7 linked regions of the Homo sapiens genome follow. The protein of the gene in region 1 purifies or fractionates together with the protein of each later gene. This does not show direct contact. Each region holds a gene or a part of one and is shown on either strand. Other genes may lie near its edges.

Region 1 (3,996 bases):
GTTAAATTTTAGGAACTGTAGCAAGCTGTGGCGAGGAGTGAGGGGACTTTTTGGGATAAAATTGTCTTATGAGCTCAATTGCATCCCCTAAAAATTCATTGGTTTAAGCCCTAACCCCCAATATCCCAGAATGTGACTGTAATGGAGACACGGCCTTTAAAGAGGTGGCTTAGGTAAAATGAGATAGTTAGAGTGGACCCTAATCCAATACAGCTAGTGTCCTTATCAGAAGAGGAAATTTGGACACAGAGAGAGATGCCAGGGATGCATGCCATGTAAGAGGCAGCAAGAGCATGGCCATCTGCAAACCAAAGAGAGAGGGCTCAGAGGAAAACAAGCCTTCCCCAATGGCTTGACCTCACATTTCTAGTCTCCAGAACTGTGAGCAAATAAATTTCTTTAGTCAAAGCCACCCAGTTGCAGTGTTTTGTTGTGGTGGCAGAGCAAACAGATAAAGTAGTAAGTCCCTCCAGCACCCTAGGAGGTTCTGCTTGTTGCCATTCCCCAAAGGCCATCCTAGCCATGATGAGGGCAGGTGCGGTTGTTTGGGAGGAGACCACTGTGGAACAAAGAGAAACAAGGCTTGCTTGATGCAGCAGGGAGTAGACTACAGATTCAAGAAGGGCTCTAGAAAGGTCCAGCAATTCAGCTTGTCAGGGAACCCCGAGCTGTATGTAGTTCTTGCTCTCCTGTGCCCTGCAGGATGGCTTGACCCATTTCTGTTCTCATGTCAGACCCTAAGGGCAGGGTCATCTGGGCCACAGACCCAGGCCCGGTGGGCCTGGTGGGCTGACCTGTGGGCTATTCTTATGCCTTCAGGAAACCCACCTTTACCACCTGGCTGTTGTGACTGGCATCGCTGAGGCTGTTTCTTTGTGTATAAAATCGAATAAGGACACATCACGTGCTAGCAATCCACCAGCATAGGGCGAAGGCTCAGCAAAGAGAAGTTCTCTCCTCCTCTGCTCTTTTAGGTCAGCAGCAAATGCAGATCGGGGTGGGGACAAGGTAAACACATAACTTGGGTGGAGATGTGATTGATTAATAACTCATAAATCATCTGAAACCATACTTTCCTTTTGATAGTCAACCCTCTGTAAACACTCAATGTGTTCTCACCTTGTTATCATTCCCAATGATGTCGAATGCGTGGTTGCCCTCTCCAGTATAAAAGTTTGATGCAGCTTTGCCTGGATGTACCTGTCTATAAGGAGTCCTGCTTATCACAATGGTAGGTAACTGGTTTTATATATAAAGGCTAGAAAAGCAAAAGAGAATATGTATTCCTATTTTAATATGCGTGTGCTTCTACCACATAGCATTGAATGGTAAATGTGACCTAGTTAGGAACCTTATGTTATTACCTGCAATTCAATGTGCAGAGTATGAGAGTCTGAGAGCTTGCGAAAATTGTAATGAGTTTAGCACTAGTTCTGTTCTCTAAGATCTAAGTTGTTTTTCCTTCCAGTAATTCTGGGGTTCAATTAGATTTCATAAGTGTCTCTAATTCTTGGGTCCTATGTGAGTAATTTGAAATTAAAAATAATTTCAGAGCTACATGACTGCATCGTTTTTGAGATGAGGGAACTGAGCCTGGGGAGGGGAAGAAGCTGCCACTGGGGTCTCACCGCAAGCCTGTGAATGAGCTGAGATAGGAACCCAGGCATTCCTCTCTCCCTGCCAGGGGCTCCCAAACTTGGCTGTGCAGTGGAAACTCCGGGGGAATTTTGAAGAACACTGACACCCATCTTCCACCCCGACACTCTGATTTAATTGGGCTGCAGTGAGAACAGAGCATCAATTTAAAAAGCTGCCCAGGTCATTTTAATACTCAAGTTTGGGAACCATTTCCCTAGGCCCTTTTCACTGTATCATGTGTTAAGGAAAAATCTTGGGTTTGGGGCTGTGTTTGTTGGTTTATTTGTTTGTTTTTGAGACAGGATCTCACTCTGTTGCCCAGGCTGGAGTGCAGTGGTGCAGTCATGATTCACTGCAGCCTGGACCTTCCTGGGCTCAGGTGATCCTCCCATCTCAGCTTCCCAAGTAGCTGGGACCACAGGCGAGTGCCACCATGCCCGACTAATTTTTGTATTTGTTTTAGAGATAGGATTTTGCTATGCTGCCCAGGCTGGTCTTGAACTCCTGGGCTCATGCAATCTGCCCACCTCAGCCTCCCAAAGTGGTGGGATTACTGGTGTGAACCACTGTGCCTGGCCAAGAAAGAATTTTGCTTCAAAATTTATAAAAACCCATGCAGGCTTTTCTTGTGTCTTAAACTTGATCTTTCTTAAAACATTCTTTACTAACGCTGGGGACTGAACTGGGCTGCTCTGGGGGCTGCAAGGGAGATGAGGCAAGAAACAGCCAGCCAAGTGGGAGGAGCCAAGGGAGGTGGGAGAGGGTCCTCAGGAGGGGACCCCGGGCCTCCTCTGGGCCACTCGGCAAGACAAACTTGCTCTCAGAAACTGTCCGGAGGCAGAACTGGGGATGGTAAAACAACAGTGGGGTGGGAGGTCCTCCCCATCTCCACTAGACAGGCTCCTCCAGCCTATACTCTATGCAGCCTCACAGTGAACTTAGCAAGCTGCAGAGCTGGCAATACCTCTGCCTGCCTAAGATCCTGAGGACCCCCAACTCTTTATTTATTTATTTATTTATTTTATTATTGTTATTTGTAGTAGAGATGAGTTTTTACTATGTTGCCCAGGCTGGTCTCTAACTCTTGGGCCCAAGTGATCCTCCCACCTTGGCTTCCCAAAGTGCTGGGATTACAGGTGTGAGAAATTATGCCTGGCCAGACCCCCAACTCTTGATCATGGGATAACCCTTCCAGGAGCAGTAATTTACCTAAAGAGATACAACTTTTTTTTTTTTTTTTTTTTTTTTTTTTCTGAGACGGAGTCTCTCTGTCGCCCAGGCTGGAGTGCAGTGGCGCAATCTCGGCTCACTGCAAGCTCCACCTCCCGGGTTCACGCCATTCTCCTGCCTCAGCCTCCTGAGTAGCTGGGACTACAGGCGCCCGCCACCACGCCCAGCTAATTTTTTGTATTTTTAGTAGAGACGGGGTTTCACCATGTTAGCCAGGATGGTCTCGATCTCCTGACCTCATGATCCACCCGCCTCGGCCTCCCAAAGTGCTGGGATTACAGGCGTGAGCCACCGCGCCCAGCCAAGAGACACAACTTCTAAGGATACTGCCAGCCTGCTTCACCTCAAGGCTCGCTGTACCATCTAGAAAATCCTAGCCCATTCTGGCGTCGTGGTGTAATCTCCTGCACACATCAGGAGCTCAGGGTTACTAAATGCAGGAAAGGAAGACACAAAGGGAAGGAAGGCTGGTGGCAGAATAGAAGACAGGAATGAAAAAAGCTTTAGAGCCTCTCTACTCAGGGGTGGACCTCAGACCAGCAGCGTGGGCATCACCTGGGAGCTTCCGTGTAAGTCTAAAGACCTACTGAAGCAGAATCTGCAGGTTAATTAACAGGCTGTCTGGTTGGGCGCGGTGGCTCACGCCCATAATCCCAGCACTTTGGGAGGCCGAGGCGGGCGGATCATTTGAGGTCAGGTATTTGAGACCAGCCTGGCCAACATGATGAAACTACGTCTCTACTACAAATACAAAAATTAGCCAGGTGTGGTGGTGCACTCCTGTAATCCCAGCTACTCAGGAGGCTGAGGCAGGAGAATCACTTGAACCCGGGAGGCGGAGGTTGCAGTGAGCCAAGATTGCATCACTGAACTCTACTCTAGGCGATAGAACGAGATTCCGTCCCAAAAAGAAACAAACAAACAGACAAACAAAACAAAACAAAAAAAACTCCCAGGAATTTATATGCACATTAAAGCAGCACTGGGTTGGTCATTGTTCCTGGGTTCTCACCTGGGAGACTAGGTAAAGACACTGAGGCACTGGCTCCTAGATTGTGTTTCCTATGAGCTCCCTGGATAACTCTAATGGTCACCCAAATGGGAGAACCCCTCTTTTTACAGGGAAGG
Region 2 (4,014 bases), on another chromosome or scaffold:
CAACACCATGGGAGGCTGAGATGGGTGGATCACGAGGTCAGGAGTTTGAGACCAGCCTGACCAACATGGTGAAACTCTGTCTCTACTAAAAAAAAAAAAAATAGAAAAATTAGCCGGGCGTGGTGGCACACGGCACCTGTAATCCCAGCTACTGAGGAGGCTGAGGCAGGAGAATCACTTGAACCCAGAAGGCAGAGGTTGCAATGAGCCGAGATTGCGCCACTGCACTCCAGCCTGGGTGACAGAGTGAGACTCTGTCTCAAAAAAAAAAAATTTTTTTTTTTTTTTTGTAGAGATGGATCTTGCTTTGTTTCTCTGGTTGGCCTTGAACTCCTGGCTTCAAGTGATCCTCCTACCTTGGCCTCGGAAAGTGTTGGGATTACAGGCGTGAGCCACCATGACTGACCTGTCGTTTAATCTTGAGGTACATAAACCTGGCTCCTAAAGGCTAAATATTTTGTTGGAGAAGGGGCATTGGATTTTGCATGAGGATGATTCTGACCTGGGAGGGCAGGTCAGCAGGCATCTCTGTTGCACAGATAGAGTGCACAGGTCTGGAGAACAAGGAGTGGGGGGTTATTGGAATTCCACATTGTTTGCTGCACGTTGGATTTTGAAATGCTAGGGAACTTTGGGAGACTCATATTTCTGGGCTAGAGGATCTGTGGACCACAAGATCTTTTTATGATGACAGTAGCAATGTATCTGTGGAGCTGGATTCTGGGTTGGGAGTGCAAGGAAAAGAATGTACTAAATGCCAAGACATCTATTTCAGGAGCATGAGGAATAAAAGTTCTAGTTTCTGGTCTCAGAGTGGTGCAGGGATCAGGGAGTCTCACAATCTCCTGAGTGCTGGTGTCTTAGGGCACACTGGGTCTTGGAGTGCAAAGGATCTAGGCACGTGAGGCTTTGTATGAAGAATCGGGGATCGTACCCACCCCCTGTTTCTGTTTCATCCTGGGCGTGTCTCCTCTGCCTTTGTCCCCTAGATGAAGTCTCCATGAGCTACAGGGCCTGGTGCATCCAGGGTGATCTAGTAATTGCAGAACAGCAAGTGCTAGCTCTCCCTCCCCTTCCACAGCTCTGGGTGTGGGAGGGGGTTGTCCAGCCTCCAGCAGCATGGGGAGGGCCTTGGTCAGCCTCTGGGTGCCAGCAGGGCAGGGGCGGAGTCCTGGGGAATGAAGGTTTTATAGGGCTCCTGGGGGAGGCTCCCCAGCCCCAAGCTTACCACCTGCACCCGGAGAGCTGTGTCACCATGTGGGTCCCGGTTGTCTTCCTCACCCTGTCCGTGACGTGGATTGGTGAGAGGGGCCATGGTTGGGGGGATGCAGGAGAGGGAGCCAGCCCTGACTGTCAAGCTGAGGCTCTTTCCCCCCCAACCCAGCACCCCAGCCCAGACAGGGAGCTGGGCTCTTTTCTGTCTCTCCCAGCCCCACTCCAAGCCCATACCCCCAGCCCCTCCATATTGCAACAGTCCTCACTCCCACACCAGGTCCCCGCTCCCTCCCACTTACCCCAGAACTTTCTCCCCATTGCCCAGCCAGCTCCCTGCTCCCAGCTGCTTTACTAAAGGGGAAGTTCCTGGGCATCTCCGTGTTTCTCTTTGTGGGGCTCAAAACCTCCAAGGACCTCTCTCAATGCCATTGGTTCCTTGGACCGTATCACTGGTCCACCTCCTGAGCCCCTCAATCCTATCACAGTCTACTGACTTTTCCCATTCAGCTGTGAGTGCCCAACCCTATCCCAGAGACCTTGATGCTTGGCCTCCCAATCTTGCCCTAGGATACCCAGATGCCAACCAGACACCTCCTTCTTCCTAGCCAGGCTATCTGGCCTGAGACAACAAATGGGTCCCTCAGTCTGGCAATGGGACTCTGAGAACTCCTCATTCCCTGACTCTTAGCCCCAGACTCTTCATTCAGTGGCCCACATTTTCCTTAGGAAAAACATGAGCATCCCCAGCCACAACTGCCAGCTCTCTGATTCCCCAAATCTGCATCCTTTTCAAAACCTAAAAACAAAAAGAAAAACAAATAAAACAAAACCAACTCAGACCAGAACTGTTTTCTCAACCTGGGACTTCCTAAACTTTCCAAAACCTTCCTCTTCCAGCAACTGAACCTCGCCATAAGGCACTTATCCCTGGTTCCTAGCACCGCTTATCCCCTCAGAATCCACAACTTGTACCAAGTTTCCCTTCTCCCAGTCCAAGACCCCAAATCACCACAAAGGACCCAATCCCCAGACTCAAGATATGGTCTGGGCGCTGTCTTGTGTCTCCTACCCTGATCCCTGGGTTCAACTCTGCTCCCAGAGCATGAAGCCTCTCCACCAGCACCAGCCACCAACCTGCAAACCTAGGGAAGATTGACAGAATTCCCAGCCTTTCCCAGCTCCCCCTGCCCATGTCCCAGGACTCCCAGCCTTGGTTCTCTGCCCCCGTGTCTTTTCAAACCCACATCCTAAATCCATCTCCTATCCGAGTCCCCCAGTTCCTCCTGTCAACCCTGATTCCCCTGATCTAGCACCCCCTCTGCAGGTGCTGCACCCCTCATCCTGTCTCGGATTGTGGGAGGCTGGGAGTGCGAGAAGCATTCCCAACCCTGGCAGGTGCTTGTGGCCTCTCGTGGCAGGGCAGTCTGCGGCGGTGTTCTGGTGCACCCCCAGTGGGTCCTCACAGCTGCCCACTGCATCAGGAAGTGAGTAGGGGCCTGGGGTCTGGGGAGCAGGTGTCTGTGTCCCAGAGGAATAACAGCTGGGCATTTTCCCCAGGATAACCTCTAAGGCCAGCCTTGGGACTGGGGGAGAGAGGGAAAGTTCTGGTTCAGGTCACATGGGGAGGCAGGGTTGGGGCTGGACCACCCTCCCCATGGCTGCCTGGGTCTCCATCTGTGTTCCTCTATGTCTCTTTGTGTCGCTTTCATTATGTCTCTTGGTAACTGGCTTCGGTTGTGTCTCTCCGTGTGACTATTTTGTTCTCTCTCTCCCTCTCTTCTCTGTCTTCAGTCTCCATATCTCCCCCTCTCTCTGTCCTTCTCTGGTCCCTCTCTAGCCAGTGTGTCTCACCCTGTATCTCTCTGCCAGGCTCTGTCTCTCGGTCTCTGTCTCACCTGTGCCTTCTCCCTACTGAGCACACGCATGGGATGGGCCTGGGGGGACCCTGAGAAAAGGAAGGGCTTTGGCTGGGCGCGGTGGCTCACACCTGTAATCCCAGCACTTTGGGAGGCCAAGGCAGGTAGATCACCTGAGGTCAGGAGTTCGAGACCAGCCTGGCCAACTGGTGAAACCCCATCTCTACTAAAAATACAAAAAATTAGCCAGGCGTGGTGGCGCATGCCTGTAGTCCCAGCTACTCAGGAGGCTGAGGGAGGAGAATTGCTTGAACCTGGGAGGTGGAGGTTGCAGTGAGCCGAGACCGTGCCACTGCACTCCAGCCTGGGTGACAGAGTGAGACTCCGCCTCAAAAAAAAAAAAAAAAAAAAAGAAAAGAAAAGAAAAGAAAAGGAAGTGTTTTATCCCTGATGTGTGTGGGTATGAGGGTATGAGAGGGCCCCTCTCACTCCATTCCTTCTCCAGGACATCCCTCCACTCTTGGGAGACACAGAGAAGGGCTGGTTCCAGCTGGAGCTGGGAGGGGCAATTGAGGGAGGAGGAAGGAGAAGGGGGAAGGAAAACAGGGTATGGGGGAAAGGACCCTGGGGAGCGAAGTGGAGGATACAACCTTGGGCCTGCAGGCCAGGCTACCTACCCACTTGGAAACCCACGCCAAAGCCGCATCTACAGCTGAGCCACTCTGAGGCCTCCCCTCCCCAGCGGTCCCCACTCAGCTCCAAAGTCTCTCTCCCTTTTCTCTCCCACACTCTATCATCCCCCGGATTCCTCTCTACTTGGTTCTCATTCTTCCTTTGACTTCCTGCTTCCCTTTCTCATTCATCTGTTTCTCACTTTCTGCCTGGTTTTGTTCTTCTCTCTCTCTTTCTCTGGCCCATGTCTGTTTCTCTATGTTTCTGTCTT
Region 3 (3,500 bases), on another chromosome or scaffold:
ACAATTCCTAGAAAATGAGTACACCTTTGTTCTCTTTTACGATTATTGTCAATTCTTGCTATTTATGGAAGTTATAGAATAACTTTATAGTTACTCTGTACAGTCACTGAAAACATTAGCAAATACTGACCCATTGCTCCTAGGGAAAATACAGGGTCAGGTTCCTTCAAGCCTCTGGTCACAACATTTTTGTCAACTGATCAGTGCATCACCTTGTTTTATGAGTGTTTCTTTTTAAAGACACCTTACTTAATATGGAGCTGATTCATTAACATTGAACTCATGACCAACAGCACTCTAACTCATGCCTCGAAGAAGCTTACCTAGCACACGTATGTTCTCTGTGAGGCATATCACAGCCTTCTTGCCCTTGGGAACACCAGAGAGCACTTCAGCATTATGCTCAGGGGCTGTTTTAAACAGCGAAACCCTCAACAAAGCGCACAAAAACACAAAAAACAGGGCACTTTAACTAGACCTCAAAAAGGACACTTGGTTACACAATGAGAGCCGAAAGCAGAAAGCGGAGCGTTGCCTTATTCCACCTCAGCTGGGAACATGCATGTTGGGTGACTGAAATTTTTCACTGCTCTGCAAATGTCCACAAATGACCGTGAAAGCCCTGAGAGTATTGATTTTGGGGACTACGAATAAATTTTAGCCAGTAGACAAATTTGCAAGCACAGAATCCATGAAAAATGAGGTTTGACTATGCTTTTGCTTTCCTCCTCTTTCTCTCCACTCACTAGTCACCATGACTTCCTCTCTCAGTTCCAGGAAACACTTCTACCCCCAGCTGCCAGAGCACCAACGGGCAGCCTCAGAGGGGAGCCTGTGGGAGATGGAGAGGTAGATCCCGTAGCCGGCGGGCGGCGACGTCCCGACCAGAGCGTGTGTGGCCCGATGGGGTCATCCCCTTTGTCATTGGGGGAAACTTCACTGGTGAGCGTGCTATTGTGGGTCCCAGAGTGTAACCAGCTTCCGGGCCTGGCCTTGTGGCAGCCCTGCCAGGCACGGAGGCGTGGGTGCCACCTGCAGCCCGAGTGCCCACACATTCCTTTCCAGGCAGTCTGCCCTCAGAATGGCTGTGACTCTTCAGTGGTGGGTAGGGGGTGGGACTGCCTGGACACCGTGGCAACCTGGCTTCCTTCCTCCTGGCAGGTAGCCAGAGGGCAGTCTTCCGGCAGGCCATGAGGCACTGGGAGAAGCACACCTGTGTCACCTTCCTGGAGCGCACTGACGAGGACAGCTATATTGTGTTCACCTATCGACCTTGCGGGTGAGCAGGAAGCCCTAGGCGCTGTACCTTCCGCCATTGCCCCAACCCAGGTTCTGCCCTGGGCCCTGCCACTGCCCCCAGCTGGGCACAGCCTTGGGTCCCTTTATCCCCTCCTGCTATGGGGCATCTACCCAGGAACTGCCCCCTGTGCGGCTGTGACCTCCAGCACACAGCCTGGGCACTCGGTGCTCAGGGCCCACCCCTCCCCTTCGCTCCCCTGCCGCCCCGCCCCCGGCAGCCTGGCCCCGCCCCTGAGTGGATGCACTCCCCCAGCTCGGGACCGCCCCCCTGAGCTGGCCCCGCCCTCCAGGTGCTGCTCCTACGTGGGTCGCCGCGGCGGGGGCCCCCAGGCCATCTCCATCGGCAAGAACTGTGACAAGTTCGGCATTGTGGTCCACGAGCTGGGCCACGTCGTCGGCTTCTGGCACGAACACACTCGGCCAGACCGGGACCGCCACGTTTCCATCGTTCGTGAGAACATCCAGCCAGGTAGGTACCTGCCCCTCGGTGCGGCCTTGGTGGGCGGCTCCCGCCCCAGCCCCCACCTCCAGGACCCCTGGGGGCAGTGGCAGCCGCTCCAGCCAGCCGTCATCGCCTGGGCCCGCAGCGCTGCCCACAGCCTGGGTTGAGCCAGCCCCTGCCCTTGAGGCATTTCCTCCTCCGTGTCAGATCAAGGACCCGCATCCATTGTGGAGCTCCTCTGGGAGGCTGGGCCAGGTCCTGGTCCTGGACAGCGGTAGCCCGGGCAGCCTCTAGGGTGGGGCATGGGCATAGTGGGCCGTCCTGGGGACTGCTCAGGCCTTTCTCCCCACCTTTGCCCACTATCTGCCCTCTGCCTGGTCTGCCCTCCGAGGGCTTTTCTCTCATTTTCTCGATGTCTCTGTCCCTCCCTTCCCGCCTCCTCCCTCTCTCCCAGGCGTTCTCCACTCTTCACTGCTCCTTCTCAGCTGTGGCTCTAGAAATGGTGCTTCCTTCCCATGTTCCCTTGAGTCCTCCATTCACCAGGCCCTCTGCTGGACAGGACTCTTCCTGAGACCCTCCCCATTCCCCAGGCTCCCCTTGGCTGCTCCCCGGACCCTCAGGTAGGGGGACTCTCTCAGATACAGGAAGGACTCCATTCCCTGCCCTGGAAAGTGAGCGTTGCATCCCAGGCAGACCCACCCCCTCCTCTCCCCCCACACCCTTTTCCTGATCTTGGCAGGGCAGGAGTATAACTTCCTGAAGATGGAGCCTCAGGAGGTGGAGTCCCTGGGGGAGACCTATGACTTCGACAGCATCATGCATTACGCTCGGAACACATTCTCCAGGTGGGAGACGGGATTGGGGCTGGGCCTCTGCTCGGGCAGCCCCACCCTGCCCTCTGTAGGCTATTCTCCTCCTGCCTCCCACTTCTGGGGCAGTGACCCAGGAAAAGAGTGGCCCTCTGGGGGGCTGTGGCCTCCAAGCAGAGGGTCCGTGGATGTTGCCTGCCCTCCTGTCCTCTTCCACGGGTGGGTCTGTGGCAGGGCCTTACCACCGTGTGCACCCAGGGCACCTGGCGGAGGAGGCTGAACCCAGCCACTCTGCAAGCCCAGCAGTGTGGGGTAGCCCCAAACTATCAGCCCAAAGGGTGCTGAGCTTTTATTTGTGGGCCATTTGTTTGTTTTTGTTTTTGTTTGAGACAGGATCTTGCTCTGTCACCTAGGCTGGAGTGCAGTGGCACAGTCATGGCTCACTGCAGCCTCAAACTCCTAGGCTCAAGGAATCGTCCCGTCTCAGCCTACTGAGTAGCTAGGATGACAGGCACACGCCACCGTGCCTTTTTTTTTAGAGATGGGGTCTCACTATATTGCCCAGGCTGGTCTCGAACTCCTGGGCTGAAGGGATCCTCCCACCTCGGCCTCCCAAAACGCTGAGATTACAGGCGCGAGCCACCAATGCCCAGCCATTCCTTTTTAATTAGTCTGCTTTTTTTGTAATTGGCCAGTTTGCACGAAGCCTGACCCCTGCCCTGGACTAGCCCCCATGCCCAGCTCCGAAGCACATCCTCCTTATCTGAGGCCCAGGTCCCCAGAAGCCACAACCAGAGCCCTCAAAGGTGGTGGCCCAGCCTCCCCTCCCCCAAGATTCTCCTTAGCAGTGTGGGAAATGGCACCTCCCTCCTCCTCAAACTCCTTCCTGGCCTGGCCATTCCCAGGCCTGGTGCTTTGCTCATCCTCTGTCTGTGTCCCAGACAGTGGCC
Region 4 (3,500 bases), on another chromosome or scaffold:
TATATTTAGCGTGGTGAACATTGTTATTGTTAATAATTACTTTTCAGTTTTATTTTATTTGGCCCTAGCTTTAAAAATATTTATTCTGGAAAAATAATCTAAACATTATGAAAGTAAGAACTGTGTTATCAAATTGTGGTCATTCAAAGTTGGTTTTCTTCCCAAGAAGATTAAATGTAGACTTCAGATTTTAAGATACGTTTTTTACATATTACTTGAGGACTTTAAAAATGTTTACAGTATATATCTGCAAAAGACAAAACCTCTGTCTGAAATAATTAAGATAAATTACAGACCTTGTAATTGAAGTACGAATTGTATGTCTTACATGCCTTGATTATTCAGGTTTGATATGTTTGCATTTTGAAGGCAAAGAAAAGCTCTAGTAAAAGAAACAACAATTATTTTAATAAGTTTTCATGCCTGCCTTAATAGTCACTTTAAGTAAAAATAATTTTTTTCAAAAAATAATAAAATCTAATGTTCATTTTAAGCTTAACACATATTCAGGTTCACTGGGCAAAAGGGCAGAAGTTAATTCCCTGTAATTGTCCATAAGTAGAAAAATGGTTTGTCCCCTTCCAAGATATTTATAAATATATAGACTATATTTTTATCACCTCAAGTAAAACACAGAAATGTCTACTTTATTTTACTATTGGTCTTTCTCTATGTTAAATATTACAATACAAGGACTATAATTGTGGAATTCAAAATAAATTTAAAATCACTACTTTCAACTAATTTTAGAGGGAAATTAAAATTGGTAAACATTTGGTTGCATTCATAACAAAGCTTATAAGTTCATAGCCTATCTCTAAATATATAAAAAATACTCTGAAAGTATTTATTCTTTGATCTCCTTGATAGACTATGTGATTAGCTAATTCCTAGTAAGTAACTTGCAAAGATATTTTAATCTTTAAGAAAGCATCAATATAATTCAAATGTTTGGTAAAATGAATAGATAATTTAAATTATCATTTAAACTTTATGTTTTCAAGAATAACTTTTAGTCACCACAGGAAAGTATCTTGAGTTTAGTTGTTAACTTCCAAACCATTGAAGGAGTTTTGATGGCTTTTTATGCAGTCTCTATTTTGGTTATATTGTTGTTTTAAATATTTTCAGGGACACTAGAACTAAACAAACTTTCTCATTCTTTTTCAAGTCACTTCAGAGTGTTGTCTGAACTTTCATCTTGAATAAATTAACTTTTCCTAAAACTTATTAACCAGATGCTATATGCTCTGAAATTTGATTAGAGTTGTAAGTAGGTACTATTTTTTGACTTTTACTTCCTCTGGGAATGTCACTTCATCTCAGAACAATTTTCTATTCTACTAAGACTAAGTCAGATGTTTCAGAGTGGGAGGAGGATTTGTAATTCTGAATGAAAACTAATATATATGCAGGACTTCTTTAAATCACCCCAGCTGTTGGCCAAGAGCAAATATTTCATATTTGTGAGGAAAAGCTGAGAAAATTCCTTTTGTTTACAACTGCCAAATCCATCTGATGGAAGCACATTGTTATCTGACAGCCAATTCATTTCCTTGGACTCTGGAATTCAAAACCATTTCTTAGGAACATTGTGGATACACTTTTCAAATATTTATTTTTTAAAAATACATTAAATGGCAAGGCAGGTTTGCTAAGGAATGCATTCAAGTTATTGTGAAACAAACTATTTTAAATTTTGTTCATTGTATTGATTTAAAAAATAAAAACTACAAAAACCCCAAAACTACCCAGAGAGTTCCATAATCAAACTGCTATGGCCTGTGGTATATATCTTTATTTTAGTCAGTGTCATTAACACCAAAAAATTGCTTGCTTTTTCAAAAGCTGCAAGAGACAATGTGAGAGACAAGAAGAAATCAATAAATTAGCTTTTTATTATGTATTGTGTAAATTTATATGGTTTTTAAGAATTTAGTTGTGAAATTTAAAATTGGAACTCAATTATGAAAAAAGTATAAAATTAGGTTTATGTTGTAAATCCCATTTATATACTGAATAGTGATTTAATTTTTATTCCTTGTATGAAGAACAAAATAAAATAAAAACATTAATTTTATTCTTGTGTAATTTATGGTTTTAAGTTATTTTCATTTTAAAATGATAAAATAATTCTAAATTACATTTTGTGAATATTTCATAGTTATACATTTTTCTTTTTCTTTTATTTTATGTTGATGGACTTTTAACTTGATCTATAGAAAAATCTGAAAACAGAAGATAAAGATCTGTACCTTTTAAAAATTCAGCTTTTTAATCTGCAAGAAACAGTCATGTTGTTGATTTGAATTTAATTGTAGCATGGAATGGCAAAGTCATTATTTGCAAATCAAAACATTATAGCTATAAAAGATAGTTTTCCCTTTCAAAGAGTGGATGAAATACAACATTTTCAGATAAACTGTCAAGGAGTTAATAGTAAAATACCTCCTCCTTTCTTTCCTCCTCCTCTCCCTCACCTCCTTCTTTTTTTCTTCCATTTTCTTTTCTTTCTTCCTTACCTCTCTAACTAGCTCCTTCCCTCCCCTCTCCTCCATTCTCTTACAACATGAGATAACACATCATTGTCAGAATGTGGTTGTGCATCACTGTAAAAGGAGGAAGTTGTAATCACGTCTGCATACCACGAGCACACATTATTTTCTGTTTTGACAGTTTGTTTCTGCACTCTCAGACCTAACATGTGCAGAGTCACATTTCCTAGGATGCTCTGTATTGCTAGTGGTACCTGTTTATCTGGGATGAAAATGAAGCCTTCAGTATGTGCCTTATATAGACTGTATTAGCAGGTCTCCTGTTGTTTAATCAAAAAAATTTTCAAATGAAATGTACTCTACCTAGATGACCAGTTAATTCAATGGAAATTCGGATAAAAAAGTCACAAATAAGCTGCAGTAAGAATCAGGACACTTAGGAAGTATATTTCTTTTATATACCTCAAGGAAGATACCTGTGTATATCTGCAATAAATTCTCCATGCAAAATTATTAATTTGAGTTTTTTTTGGATGCTGCATAATGTCCTAGAGGGTTAAAAAAATAACACTGGGACCCAGCAATGCTGTGGGCTTGTGTAAAATTCTCTTGTTCACACACTGTTTATGGGATTAGATACTACAGTCATTCACTTCTATTTTATGGTCTTTTAGGGGGACCCAGATCATGTCAGGGTTCCACTAGTGAAAACAATCTTCTTTTGAAATTTCCTTGATAATACAAATGCAAAAGTATGAGAAAGTTTTTGAAATTTTTTAGGGTTGTTATAGGATGTTTTATTATTTACTCCAAGACTGAAAAGTGAAATGCATATATGCCTAGGTTATGTTGGTAAGAATCAGTAGCATACTGTGAAAAGTCTTGGATATTAGGCTTTGTGTGAACACCGCAACCATCTTGTAACCTTAAAATAAGAAAATTGTGGAAATAACAAAGGCAGGCATGTGGAGTGTTCATCTTTTCCCACCAATACTTGGTAAATGT
Region 5 (3,500 bases), on another chromosome or scaffold:
TTCTCCTTGCCCACTGCCTACACAGAGCTGATTTATCAAGACAGGGGAATTGCAATAGAGAAAGAGTTTAATTCACAAGGAACTGGTTGTGCGGATAAAACACAAGACCAGATGAGCCAGTTTATCAACCTAGGTACTGCCAACGGGGTGCTGCCAACCATCGAGGACAGGGTCTATAAAATATCTCAAGCACTGAACTTAGGTTTTATAATAGTGATGCCTAAGCCATAATTTCTAATCTTGTGGCTTATTTGTTAGTTTTGCAAAGGCAGTCCAGTCCTCAGGCAAGAAAGGGGCTTATTTGGGGAAAGGGCTGTTACCATCTTTGTTTCTTTTTACTTTTTTTTTTTTTTTTGACACAGGGACTCACTTTGTTATGCAGGCAGGAGTGAAGTGGCACAGTCTTGGCTCACCGTAGCTTTGAATTCCTCAGCCCCCCAAGTAACTGGGACTATAGGCATGTGCCACACATCAGGCTACTTTCTGTATTTTTAGTAGAGATGGGGTTTCACCAGTTCCAGGCTGGTCTGGAACTCCTGGGCTCAAGCAGTCTGCCCACCTCAGCCTCCCAAAGTGCTGGGATTACAAGCATGAATCACCACACCCGGCCGCGTCTGTTTCAAAGTCAGACTGTAAACCAAGTTCCTCCCAAAATTAGTTCGGCCTATGCCCAGGAATGGACAAGGACAGCTTGGAGATTAGAAGCCACATGGAGTCAGGTCAGATCTATTTCACTGTTATAATTTTCTCAGCTATAATTTTTGCAAAGTCAGCTTCAAAATCCCTCAGTAAATGGCAACTATTATAATTATTATCAGCAGCACCATAGGGAGAAGGACTGGATCAGTACATACCAAAAATCACAATAATCATATTGGGGTTGCGGATAATTTTTTTTCCGAAGTGTTGCAGTTGGAAATCCATGATGGATTTTGACCGCATGTATCTGAGCCTCTTCCCCTAGTCTCGCCCCGCTTCCGTACCCTGACTTCAGGGTTCTTTCCAGTTGCTCTGCCTGAGCTATACCATTCGTTCCCACACAGCACAGAATGTCTTCCTTGTCATGGAGGCTCTGTGCACAGTAGCGTGTTGTGAATGAGGCTGGTTGATATTATATTACACTTCTCTGAATAAAATGCCACCTTGATTTGCTCATTCTCAATCGGCAGGAGTCTTATTTCACCTCTGTAGGTCTTACTAAGTGTGTTTAGTTTTCAAAAGAAACCAGTGTTTCCCTAGTACTTAACATGGGTTTATTACATTTTTTTGACAAAAATTCAAAATTACATATATTTTGTTCTTCATTAGCAAGTCACACATTTTAAAATGGCACACTCCCTTCCTCTTCGTGTTGTTATTTGTTTATTTTAAGGACTGTTTCTGGGTAGATAAGCTCTGGGTTATTTTAAAATACATTTTACAATGGAAATGGCCTGGACTTGAACTGAAAAGGAAACATTATCTGTGTTATTTCAGACACATCAGTGATCAGTTTAGAAGATAGGATGATTTCACTAAGCTTATAATTCATCTTAAAGCTCACCTAAATAAAAGTAAGTGACTAAAATGATCTTTTTCTTCCAGGAGAGGTAGGATTAATTAATTGTATAATGTGTGGAATATTTCAGCGCTTATCTGATTCTTCCATCTTAAATCTTTGAGAGTTTTTAAAAAATTATGTGTCCATTACTGTTTATATCACATAGACATATTTTCATTTGTCTACTTAAAAATGTATTTTTAACAAAGTTTAAATAGCTGCTAGCTGTAATGTATAACTGCTGAGTTATAAGATGCTTTCCAGAATTATAAAGTCATAAACCATTGTGTGGAAACAATGAACCTTTCAGAACCAAAGAAAAGGTCAACACTATGAAAGGACTATCAAAATAATGCAAGTGTCCTATCTCTCCTTACCTGGCAGAAGCAGCATAAAGACATCAGACACTCCGTGTTTGTTCAGAGGTGGAAAAAGGCAGAAGAACAAGTTTCTTCCTAGGCAGGGGATTGTTTACTTGGCTTATTTAAATCACAGTTACTAGTCCTCACTCTTAAGTGACTGGAAAAATGGGACACGTCTTCTCCATAGTTAGCAATAGCATGTAAAAAGCAATTGTGCTTAATTCCTCATAATGTGTTTTTTTTTTAAAAAAAAAAAAAAAGGCATCTTCCCTTTGTGGCTGGCAGCAGCATTCTCATTCAGAAAAGCCGCATCTCTAAGAGCCCCAGACCCCTCACATAAATCCCCTTGTTCCTGGATGATCAAGGTCCGGCTGCTTTTTCTCGCTTTCCAATGAGATGCAGACAGACTGGGAAAGAAGGGAGTTTATTTCTGCAACTGGTGACAGGAAGATGGTGGGAGTGACTCACCAGACCAACTCAAAGTTACAAGTTTTTCTTCAGTGTTTATTTACATTCAATTCAACCTCTATGCCTGTGTGAGAGTGTGCACCTACAAGCAGGAGTGTTTCATTCAGTCTAATCTTTAGGGTCTGGGGTCTGGAAAGTCTCTAGAGCCTTGGAAAATTTTCTTTAATCTTAAGTGGCCTTGATACAAGGTATATGTGTAAGAATGCCTTCGATCAGATGTTAGGGTCTGAGAAAGTCCAGGCGAGGTCTTAATGTATTTGTTTTCACATTCCAGGCCTTGTACTCAGGCACCAGTTTCTCCAGCTTGAATGTTTAACTTATGCATTCATCAGAATTACAGGAAAGGGTTAGTGGAAACTGGCTGCTCTGGTTGCTGATGACAACCTGTTGCCACACCCTGGTGCTGGGCATTGAGGGAACCACTAGAAGAGAAGAGAATCCTGGAGGGTTAGGTCCTAAACATCTGAAAGGCAATGGTAACTTGCTGAAGGGTTTTTCCTACTCGCAGAATGACCCCGTCAGATTAGCTTTCCAGAAGAGTCATTTCAGCTGCAATGTATCAAGAGTGGTCACCTTTTGTTCCGTAATGAGACACTGAGGTGGGATTGCAGTAAGCCCCGAAACTCAAGCACTGGGATGTGTGGCTTGGCCCTTTAGAAGTTTGTGTAGGTAGCAACATTGGCCCCTGTGGAGGAAAGTGATGGGCTCGAAAGCAGGAGGAGAGGCGGTGCCTTGCAGCACTGTGCAGGGTGAGCCAAAGAGGGGCAAGCCCAGCCAGCACTCGAACCAGAGCTTTGGCACTGAAGGAATGGGGAAGTGGATGCCAAAGAGGGCGTGGTACACAAACCTGTAGAGTTTTTCCAGTTCTGTTGCTGTTTCTTTAAAATATGTGTGCATTTGGGTGAATTTACTAAGAAGCTTACATCAATTAAAATTTTGGTAACTATGCTCTTAGAAATGTTTTCTTTGTACAGCTTATCCTTTCGGTCATCCCTGTAGCAGCTGTCAGTAAAGTATTAATATTGAAATAAACATAATTAACCTTATATTATTTAGTACCATTCTAGGTTAAAGGTAAATATAGGCTGGGTGCAGTGGCTCACACTTGTAATTCCAGCACTTTGGGAGGC
Region 6 (3,500 bases), on another chromosome or scaffold:
GCCCTGGTGCCCCCCACCCCCCAGTTGTGGGGCTGACGCTGCCCCCTTGCTCCACCCCGCCCGCAGACCCTGAACTGTGTGAACCCTGAGAATGAGAATGCACCTGAGGTGCCGGTGAAGGGGCTGGACTGTGACACGGTCACCCAGGCCAAGGAGAAGCTGCTGGACGCTGCCTACAAGGGCGTGCCCTACTCCCAGCGGCCCAAGGCCGCGGACATGGACCTGGGTGAGCGGGCGGGGCCACGGCTGCCCGGGGTGTGTGCTGGAGCAGAGGGGCAGGGCCATGGCCTAGTACTGAGCTTGGCGGGGAAGGCCAGGCCAGTCCTCCACACCAGGCTGGTCTGGAGGGCAGTGGAATGGCGAGTGGGCTGTCCAGTCCCAGGTTGGGTATAGAGGGTGGCTGCCCTGCTCTGGGCAGAGACTCTGGGAGGTGGTGGGTTCCAGTGCACTCTGGGAGGCAGTGGGCTCTTGGAGCCCTGAGGGGGATACTCAGGCTCATGAGAGGGGCAGGTGGAGCCATTGAGGGCCAGAGGGGATGGGACGGGTTTGGGGTGGGGCCCGGAGTCCTGCTGCAGATGTGACTGGAGAGGCTGGGTCCCCACAGAAGCCTCGGTGCCAGGCTGAGGAGTTGGGGCCCTAAGGCTTGCGGAAGGCAGGGCAGACCCCCTTAGGCTGGGGCTGCTGTGGCAGATTGGGAGGGCTGTGGCACATTGCAGGGGACTATGGCAGGTTAAGTGTGCTGCAGCAGGGGCGGAGGTATGTCCCTGCCCTGTGCTGGTGCTGAGAGCTGCAGGCAGGCCCCGTCCCACTACACTGCTGTGATGGAGGAGGGAAAGAGGGCCCCAGCGGCCCCACCCTCCAGCTCCCTCCTCCCCCAGAGTGGCGCCAGGGCCGCATGGCGCGCATCATCCTGCAGGACGAGGACGTCACCACCAAGATTGACAACGATTGGAAGAGGCTGAACACACTGGCTCACTACCAGGTGGCTCCCGGCCCTCCGACCCTAGCACAGGCCTCCCTCCCCTTGGGGCTTCCACAGCGCAGCCACCAATGTTTGCAGCATGTGGGCTGGACAGCAGCTGGATCTGTCAGGGAGAGGAGGGGAGGTGGTCACTTATGTGTGTGGACCGTCCCAGGACTCGAGCTGGGCTTGTGGGATTGCCTAGCATCCCTGGGCTGTCCTGATATAGAGTTCCAGACTGAGTGAGGTGGCTGCCTCCAGGCACAGCACTAGGGTGTCACCGGGGTCCCCAGCCGGGGAGTGGGAGCCTGGTGGTGCAGGGGCACCCTGGTGGGTCACAGGGTCCCTGGCCCTCTGCCCACAGGTGACAGACGGGTCCTCGGTGGCACTGGTGCCCAAGCAGACGTCCGCCTACAACATCTCCAACTCCTCCACCTTCACCAAGTCCCTCAGCAGATACGGTGAGGGGCCAGGCAGCGGGCGAGAGGGCAGCGCATGGGTCCCTGGCCTGGGCAGGACGTCCCCCGGGCTCCCACGCTGCAGCAGCCGGACGGGAGGACCCAGGGGCAGGTGTCAAGCCTGTCACTCGCACTCTTGGCCTTACCCTCCAGCTCTGGAGGCTGCGCCTCCTCGCGACTGTGTGTCCGTACACAATTATGCCACCTCTGTGGTGTCATCGGCTGCCCCAAAATCCCACATGGGTGGGGGTGCCATCCCCAGCTTTCAGATGGGGAAACAGGCTCGGGCGGGGGGTGCGGGGTGCCAGCCAACGCGGGCGCTGACAGCCTGGTGCTGCAGAGAGCATGCTGCGCACGGCCAGCAGCCCCGACAGCCTGCGCTCGCGCACGCCCATGATCACGCCCGACCTGGAGAGCGGCACCAAGCTGTGGCACCTGGTGAAGAACCACGACCACCTGGACCAGCGTGAGGGTGACCGCGGCAGCAAGATGGTCTCGGAGATCTACTTGACACGGCTACTGGCCACCAAGGTGGGCCTGGCTGGCAGATGGGGGCAGGGGACGCTGGGCCAACTGAGCTCAGAGAAAGTGCCAAGCCCAGAGCAAGGGCCTCACCCCCATGCTCCCATGGCCACTTGCCTAGTCACCCAGGAGGTGTAGGCAGCCAGGCAGCGCCCTGGGGCTCAGTGTCCCTGCCTGCCCCCCGCAGGGCACACTGCAGAAGTTTGTGGACGACCTGTTTGAGACCATCTTCAGCACGGCACACCGGGGCTCAGCCCTGCCGCTGGCCATCAAGTACATGTTCGACTTCCTGGATGAGCAGGCCGACAAGCACCAGATCCACGATGCTGACGTGCGCCACACCTGGAAGAGCAACTGGTAATGCAGGGCAGGGGGAGGAGGGGCATCCCCCAGGGCCAGGCCAGATGTGTTCCCAGGGCCCTCGCCCTGTTCTGATCCGGAGCCCCCACTTGGGGCTCCCTGGCGTGGGGACACAACCCAGCAGGGGCATGGCGGGCCAGTCCTGTGCTAACTGGCCTTCCCTATCTGCCTGTGCCCCTTGACCCACGGCTCGCCCTCTGCTCCAGCCGCTGAGCCCCTCCCACTGCTGCAGGAACTGTGTGCAGGTGTGAGTGGCTCTGGGTGTGCACAGCTGTGCGGACATGAGTGTGGGCTGCAGCGTGAGAAACAGGGCACAGTGGACCAGCCCCAAGCCGGCTGGTTGCAGTGATGAGGGCAACAGGGACTGCAGGTACTCCTGGTAGTCTTTAGTGCGAGGAATTTACAGCCTCCCCATTGCAGTGTGGGGCCAGGCCAGAGCCTGCTTACTGAGGCGCAGAGGCCGAGCCACTTGCCACGGTCTCACGGAGCAGCTGGAGTACGGAGCAGGGCCTGCCCAGCCTGCACCGTGCACAGCTACACCAATGTGAGCTGGGGCTCTATGAGGCTGGGTTTTGTTATGAAGAGGCACCCAGCCTCTGAGTGGCCTCCCTCCAGAGTATCTGCCTCCCTGGCCAGCCAGTCCCTTGCTTTCCTCCGGCCTGGCCCACCCCTGGGACAGTGACCTGCTTCTTCCCTGGTCATGGACTGCCCAACTCAGCAATGTTGGCTTCCTCTCTGCCACACAGGCAGGCCAGCCCTTGGCCTCACTCCTTACTCAGGACCCCCAAGCTCTGGTCTGTGGCCCCCTGCTCCGGTTGGCACACTGTAGCCACACCCTAGCCCCTGGAGCGGGTCCCTGCTGTGTGTGTGGCCCCCACCCCAGCAGACAACCCCACCATTGCCTGCTACAGGGGAGCCCCTCTCTGTGCACCAGGCCCCTCTACCTGCATGGCCGAGGGCTTCTGGGGTAGGACTGCTCCCCCACACCTGGGGTCAGGTGGATGCCCTTGCCTGTATGGCTGGACCCTGCTTCACCAGGAAGTGCCCCTCCTCACCGTGCATCCTGCTGGGGTCTCCCCCCAGTTCTGTGCACACTCTCCACTGTCTTAGCTCCCCTCTCTCCTGGACTGTCCCTGCCACTTCTGCTGGCTCCCGGGCCAGCAGCCACCCCCGACTTGGTCTTGTCCATCCCATGTGTT
Region 7 (3,500 bases), on another chromosome or scaffold:
TCTCCTGCCTCAGCCTCCCAAGTAGCTGGGACTACAGGTGCCCACCACCACGCCCGGCTAATTTTTTGTATTTTTAGTAGAGATTGGGTTTCACCGTGTTAACCAGGATGGTCTCGATCTCCTGACCTTGTGATCCGCCCGCCTCGGCCTCCCAAAGTGCTGGGATTACAGGCGTGAGCCACCGCACCCAGCCAGGGATTTCTATTGTTTTTGAGAGGGCTACCCTGTCCTATCAACAGAGAATGAGAAATAGAGCATAACCGAGCCAAGAACCCAAAATAAGGAATCCAGCTTTTCTCCTCTTGTTGACTCTGACCACAGAGGTTCCATGTAAAATGGTGAGGCAAAGAATTGAGACACTGCTTTAGCCTTATGTGTAGGGAGGAAAATGTATAGCTCTGTATCCCAGCATTCCCTGTATTCTGGACTCATTTCCTGCAGCAGTTTACTAGAAGGAGAGCACAGCTGATAGATGCACTAACTCATACATAAGAGCCTTCATGTCCAAGGTCTGTGGCATAGCCAGCCTGGGTCCTCTGCCAGGAGAGACAGTCCTTGTTTGGAGTGCCTGATGTTCATCCCTGGTCAATATCCAGTGCTTGGTTCTGGCCAGTGCTCAGTACCCCCAGTCTCAGGGTGGTGGTGCTCTGTGGAACCCCATTTAGGCTCCATGTCACCTCTTCGAGGTTTTCCAGATTAAGTCCACGAGTCTGGTGGAAAATGCCAGGCTGGCACTTAGCAGTCACTTCCCACCTCTCTCTCCTATCATAAATTTAGCAAACGTCTTTGAGCTAGCTTTCAGTAGGAAAACTACAGAATGCCCACTCTTTGTACTTTCAAAGGAAAATAGGCACTAGAACCTCATGAGACAGGCTGGCAAGCCAGTTCTGTTCCTGAACTTCTATTGTCTCAACTCTGTAGAACCCTGCTTTCCTCCTGAGTGCCGAGCACATAGTTCTTTTCCCCGCAAGGAAAGCAGGGTTGGAGTAAGTGGCCCAATGGGTCCAAGGACAGATACAGATGAGCGTTTTAAGCTGCACTGGGCTTGAGAAGGGAAGCCCTGCAGAAGTTCCTGTGAGCCCTGGAAAGGAATTCCACTGTTGGTGTAGCCTCTTCATCCTGTCCCTGGTGCTCCACTTCCCCAAACCAGGCTGCATGGGAGCCAGCTCCACTATCACCTATCTGGCTGGCTGGAGCACAGCTCAGTGTTCCTTAGCAGTGTCCACATAGGTTCCAGAGCTCTGGCCTTTCTATTCACTGAGGTGGTCCAACCACCCTCCACTGAAGAAGGTGGTCTCTCCCTATGCCACAGTGCTGTCCCCCATCTCATTCCTATGCAGGGCTTCCATGGTGAGTCATACACACCATGACTCAGCTGTTGAGCTTGATCGAGATCCTAGGTTAGAGGCCCACTGTCACCTATTTATAATTAATTATAGGCAGATTCAGGCTTCCTGATGTTCCAGGTTTACTGTAGTACTTAGAAGAGTTTCATAATACTAACCTGGTATGCTTCCCCTCCACCTTGCTGCACTCTCACACCCCTTTGCTGCTAGAGAGAGCAGCTTTGAGACTGTGGGGCAGTGTGAGCAGAGGAATTTGCAGCCTGATTGGACCTTAAAGAGGACTAGGTTATAGCCTGACTCTGTCATTGCCTTGCTGCCTGAGGATTAAAGAGGGAAGTAGTTCATGATTTCTTTATCTGGAAAATTGGGTTAGTAGCTGTTCCTGCTACCCATCCTATTCCCCGTTAGTAGGTTGAATAACCCTAACTCACTATGACACTCGCCAACTACTGCGCAGCCCTGGTTATGCATCAGAATTGCTGGGGAAGCTTTCAAAAAATACAGGTGCCTAAGCCCCACCCCAGATCTATTGGGGCAGAATCAGGGTGAGACTGGAGCCTGTGCTTTTTTTCCTTCACAAAGGAAGGAGAAAGGTTAATTTTAAAAACATAAAATTCACACACCATAAAACCATACTTTTAAAGTATACAATTCAATTTTTTTATTCATAAGGTTGTACAGCCAACATCACTGTTTCATTCCAGAACATTTTCAACATCTCAAAAAGAAACTCTGCACCCATTAGCAGTCATTCCCTGTAGCTTCCCTCATAGGCAATGGCAACTGCTGATCTGCTGAATAGAATCATATAATATGTGAGAAATGTTTAGTTTTTAAAGTTACACAGATAATTCCAATGTGCAGCCAGAATACAGAACCATTATTCATCAGATGGCATTATTAAGGACTCCGCCTGCAATGAGATTTTGTGGATTATTGAGTAAGAGCCAAGGGACCCTTCCCCCTAGGGTTTTTGGGGCCTGGATGGCTGTGTATTTGAGGGGGAGACCGAAGCCAGTAGAAGTAATCAGATGATCCACTGCTTAGTGCAGCAGCAGCTTCTCCCATTGGTGTGGGTGGGTAGGCCACATGCCTGGAGAAACACACCCCCTCAGAGCTCTCATGGCTGTCATGGGGGATGCAGAGGGACAGGCATAGCTCTTGCCCTCAAGGTGTGTATGGTCTGTCAGGAAGATGAGAAAGTCCATCTGCATTCCTTTTCCCCACCATGACTCGGGACACGCTCTTGTGGTGCTTTTGTTTGTCCTCTGTGATTGAGAAACCTTGTCCTTGAGGAGGGGGGTTTTTGGACTCTGGATCTGGGGTTCATTGGGCCTTTTTCCTGCAGGTGGCGGGAAATGTTTTTTAAAGTGAAGAAAACAGTTGGGGAAGCTCCAGATGGACCAGCCAGTGCCTACTTGGCCGACACCACCCATACCTCCTTGTACATGGTGAGGCCCCAAGGATGGGTGTAGACCAGCGCAGGGGGTAGAAACGATTTTTAGAAACGAAAGCTTTTTATTACCTTTCACAGGTGGGTTCTACCCTGAGCCCTGTTCCATGGCTCCCTTCAGAGGAATCCACTCTCTGGAGCAGTTTGTCTCCTCCAGGCCTGGAGGCCTTGGTGTCTGAACTCTGTGCTGTCCTGAAGCCTCGCCTCCAGCCAGGGTGAGTGAGGTCATCACCCCAGGGTGTGAGAAAAGCCTGCTTAGAACATCCCTGGAGGAGCAGCAGCCAGATGGGTAGTTCCTAATGAACTGGCCAGAGTGGGATTGGGAGGACCTTCCTCAAACCAGTATGTCCTACACAAGGCCACCAGGCCACTCCTTTCTGTAAGCCAATTCCCAGGCTCCTTTCCTGGGATAACCTCTGTCCTCCAGGGCTGGCTCTGGAGGAAGAATCTCCAGCAGGGGCATCTGTTTCTGAGACTGCCCTTCCCCTTGGGGAGCTCACTGGCCATCCTGCACTTTACTGCCCTGGCCCTGAAGGACACAACTCCTCATACCAGTGGCCCAGGTGTGGACGCAGATCCCCACCTCAGTGCCACCACAATGTCTCTCAATACCATTCAGACCAGTCATAACGTTGAGGTTTTATTGGCAGCACAGCAATGCCAAAGGGAATTAATTAGTCTTTGGCTGTTGGATATGCTGG

The links.
Region 2: the proteins of MSMB (region 1) and KLK3 purify together in Homo sapiens (affinity purification with mass spectrometry, with the first as the bait; one large-scale study listed by BioGRID). This does not show direct contact.
Region 3: the proteins of MSMB (region 1) and BMP1 purify together in Homo sapiens (affinity purification with mass spectrometry; one large-scale study listed by BioGRID and IntAct). This does not show direct contact.
Region 4: the proteins of MSMB (region 1) and SLIT2 purify together in Homo sapiens (affinity purification with mass spectrometry; one large-scale study listed by BioGRID and IntAct). This does not show direct contact.
Region 5: the proteins of MSMB (region 1) and LRP11 purify together in Homo sapiens (affinity purification with mass spectrometry; one large-scale study listed by BioGRID and IntAct). This does not show direct contact.
Region 6: the proteins of MSMB (region 1) and PLXNA1 purify together in Homo sapiens (affinity purification with mass spectrometry; one large-scale study listed by BioGRID and IntAct). This does not show direct contact.
Region 7: the proteins of MSMB (region 1) and PEX6 purify together in Homo sapiens (affinity purification with mass spectrometry; one large-scale study listed by BioGRID and IntAct). This does not show direct contact.

Annotation. Positions count from the first base shown.
Region 1 is NC_000010.11:46,043,470-46,047,465, reverse strand, and holds the start of MSMB (beta-microseminoprotein isoform a precursor), read left to right. Parts: upstream 1-1,196; 5' UTR 1,197-1,228; coding exon 1,229-1,231; intron 1,232-3,996.
Region 2 is NC_000019.10:50,853,701-50,857,714, forward strand, and holds the start of KLK3 (prostate-specific antigen isoform 1 preproprotein), read left to right. Parts: upstream 1-1,214; 5' UTR 1,215-1,255; coding exon 1,256-1,301; intron 1,302-2,539; coding exon 2,540-2,699; intron 2,700-4,014. UniProt on the Homo sapiens protein: Hydrolyzes semenogelin-1 thus leading to the liquefaction of the seminal coagulum.
Region 3 is NC_000008.11:22,175,372-22,178,871, forward strand, and holds part of BMP1 (bone morphogenetic protein 1 isoform 3 precursor), read left to right. Parts: intron 1-771; coding exon 772-942; intron 943-1,161; coding exon 1,162-1,279; intron 1,280-1,552; exon of another isoform or gene 1,553-1,589; coding exon 1,590-1,768; intron 1,769-2,480; coding exon 2,481-2,586; intron 2,587-3,500. UniProt on the Homo sapiens protein: Metalloprotease that plays key roles in regulating the formation of the extracellular matrix (ECM) via processing of various precursor proteins into mature functional enzymes or structural proteins.
Region 4 is NC_000004.12:20,258,405-20,261,904, forward strand, and holds part of SLIT2 (slit homolog 2 protein isoform 1 precursor), read left to right. Parts: intron 1-3,500. UniProt on the Homo sapiens protein: Thought to act as molecular guidance cue in cellular migration, and function appears to be mediated by interaction with roundabout homolog receptors.
Region 5 is NC_000006.12:149,854,360-149,857,859, reverse strand, and holds part of LRP11 (low-density lipoprotein receptor-related protein 11 isoform 1 precursor), read left to right. Parts: intron 1-3,500.
Region 6 is NC_000003.12:127,028,115-127,031,614, forward strand, and holds part of PLXNA1 (plexin-A1 precursor), read left to right. Parts: intron 1-66; coding exon 67-226; intron 227-878; coding exon 879-982; intron 983-1,325; coding exon 1,326-1,422; intron 1,423-1,759; coding exon 1,760-1,950; intron 1,951-2,128; coding exon 2,129-2,298; intron 2,299-3,500. UniProt on the Homo sapiens protein: Coreceptor for SEMA3A, SEMA3C, SEMA3F and SEMA6D. Necessary for signaling by class 3 semaphorins and subsequent remodeling of the cytoskeleton. Plays a role in axon guidance, invasive growth and cell migration.
Region 7 is NC_000006.12:42,969,182-42,972,681, reverse strand, and holds part of PEX6 (peroxisome biogenesis factor 6), read left to right. Parts: intron 1-2,694; coding exon 2,695-2,797; intron 2,798-2,880; coding exon 2,881-3,014; intron 3,015-3,500. UniProt on the Homo sapiens protein: Component of the PEX1-PEX6 AAA ATPase complex, a protein dislocase complex that mediates the ATP-dependent extraction of the PEX5 receptor from peroxisomal membranes, an essential step for PEX5 recycling.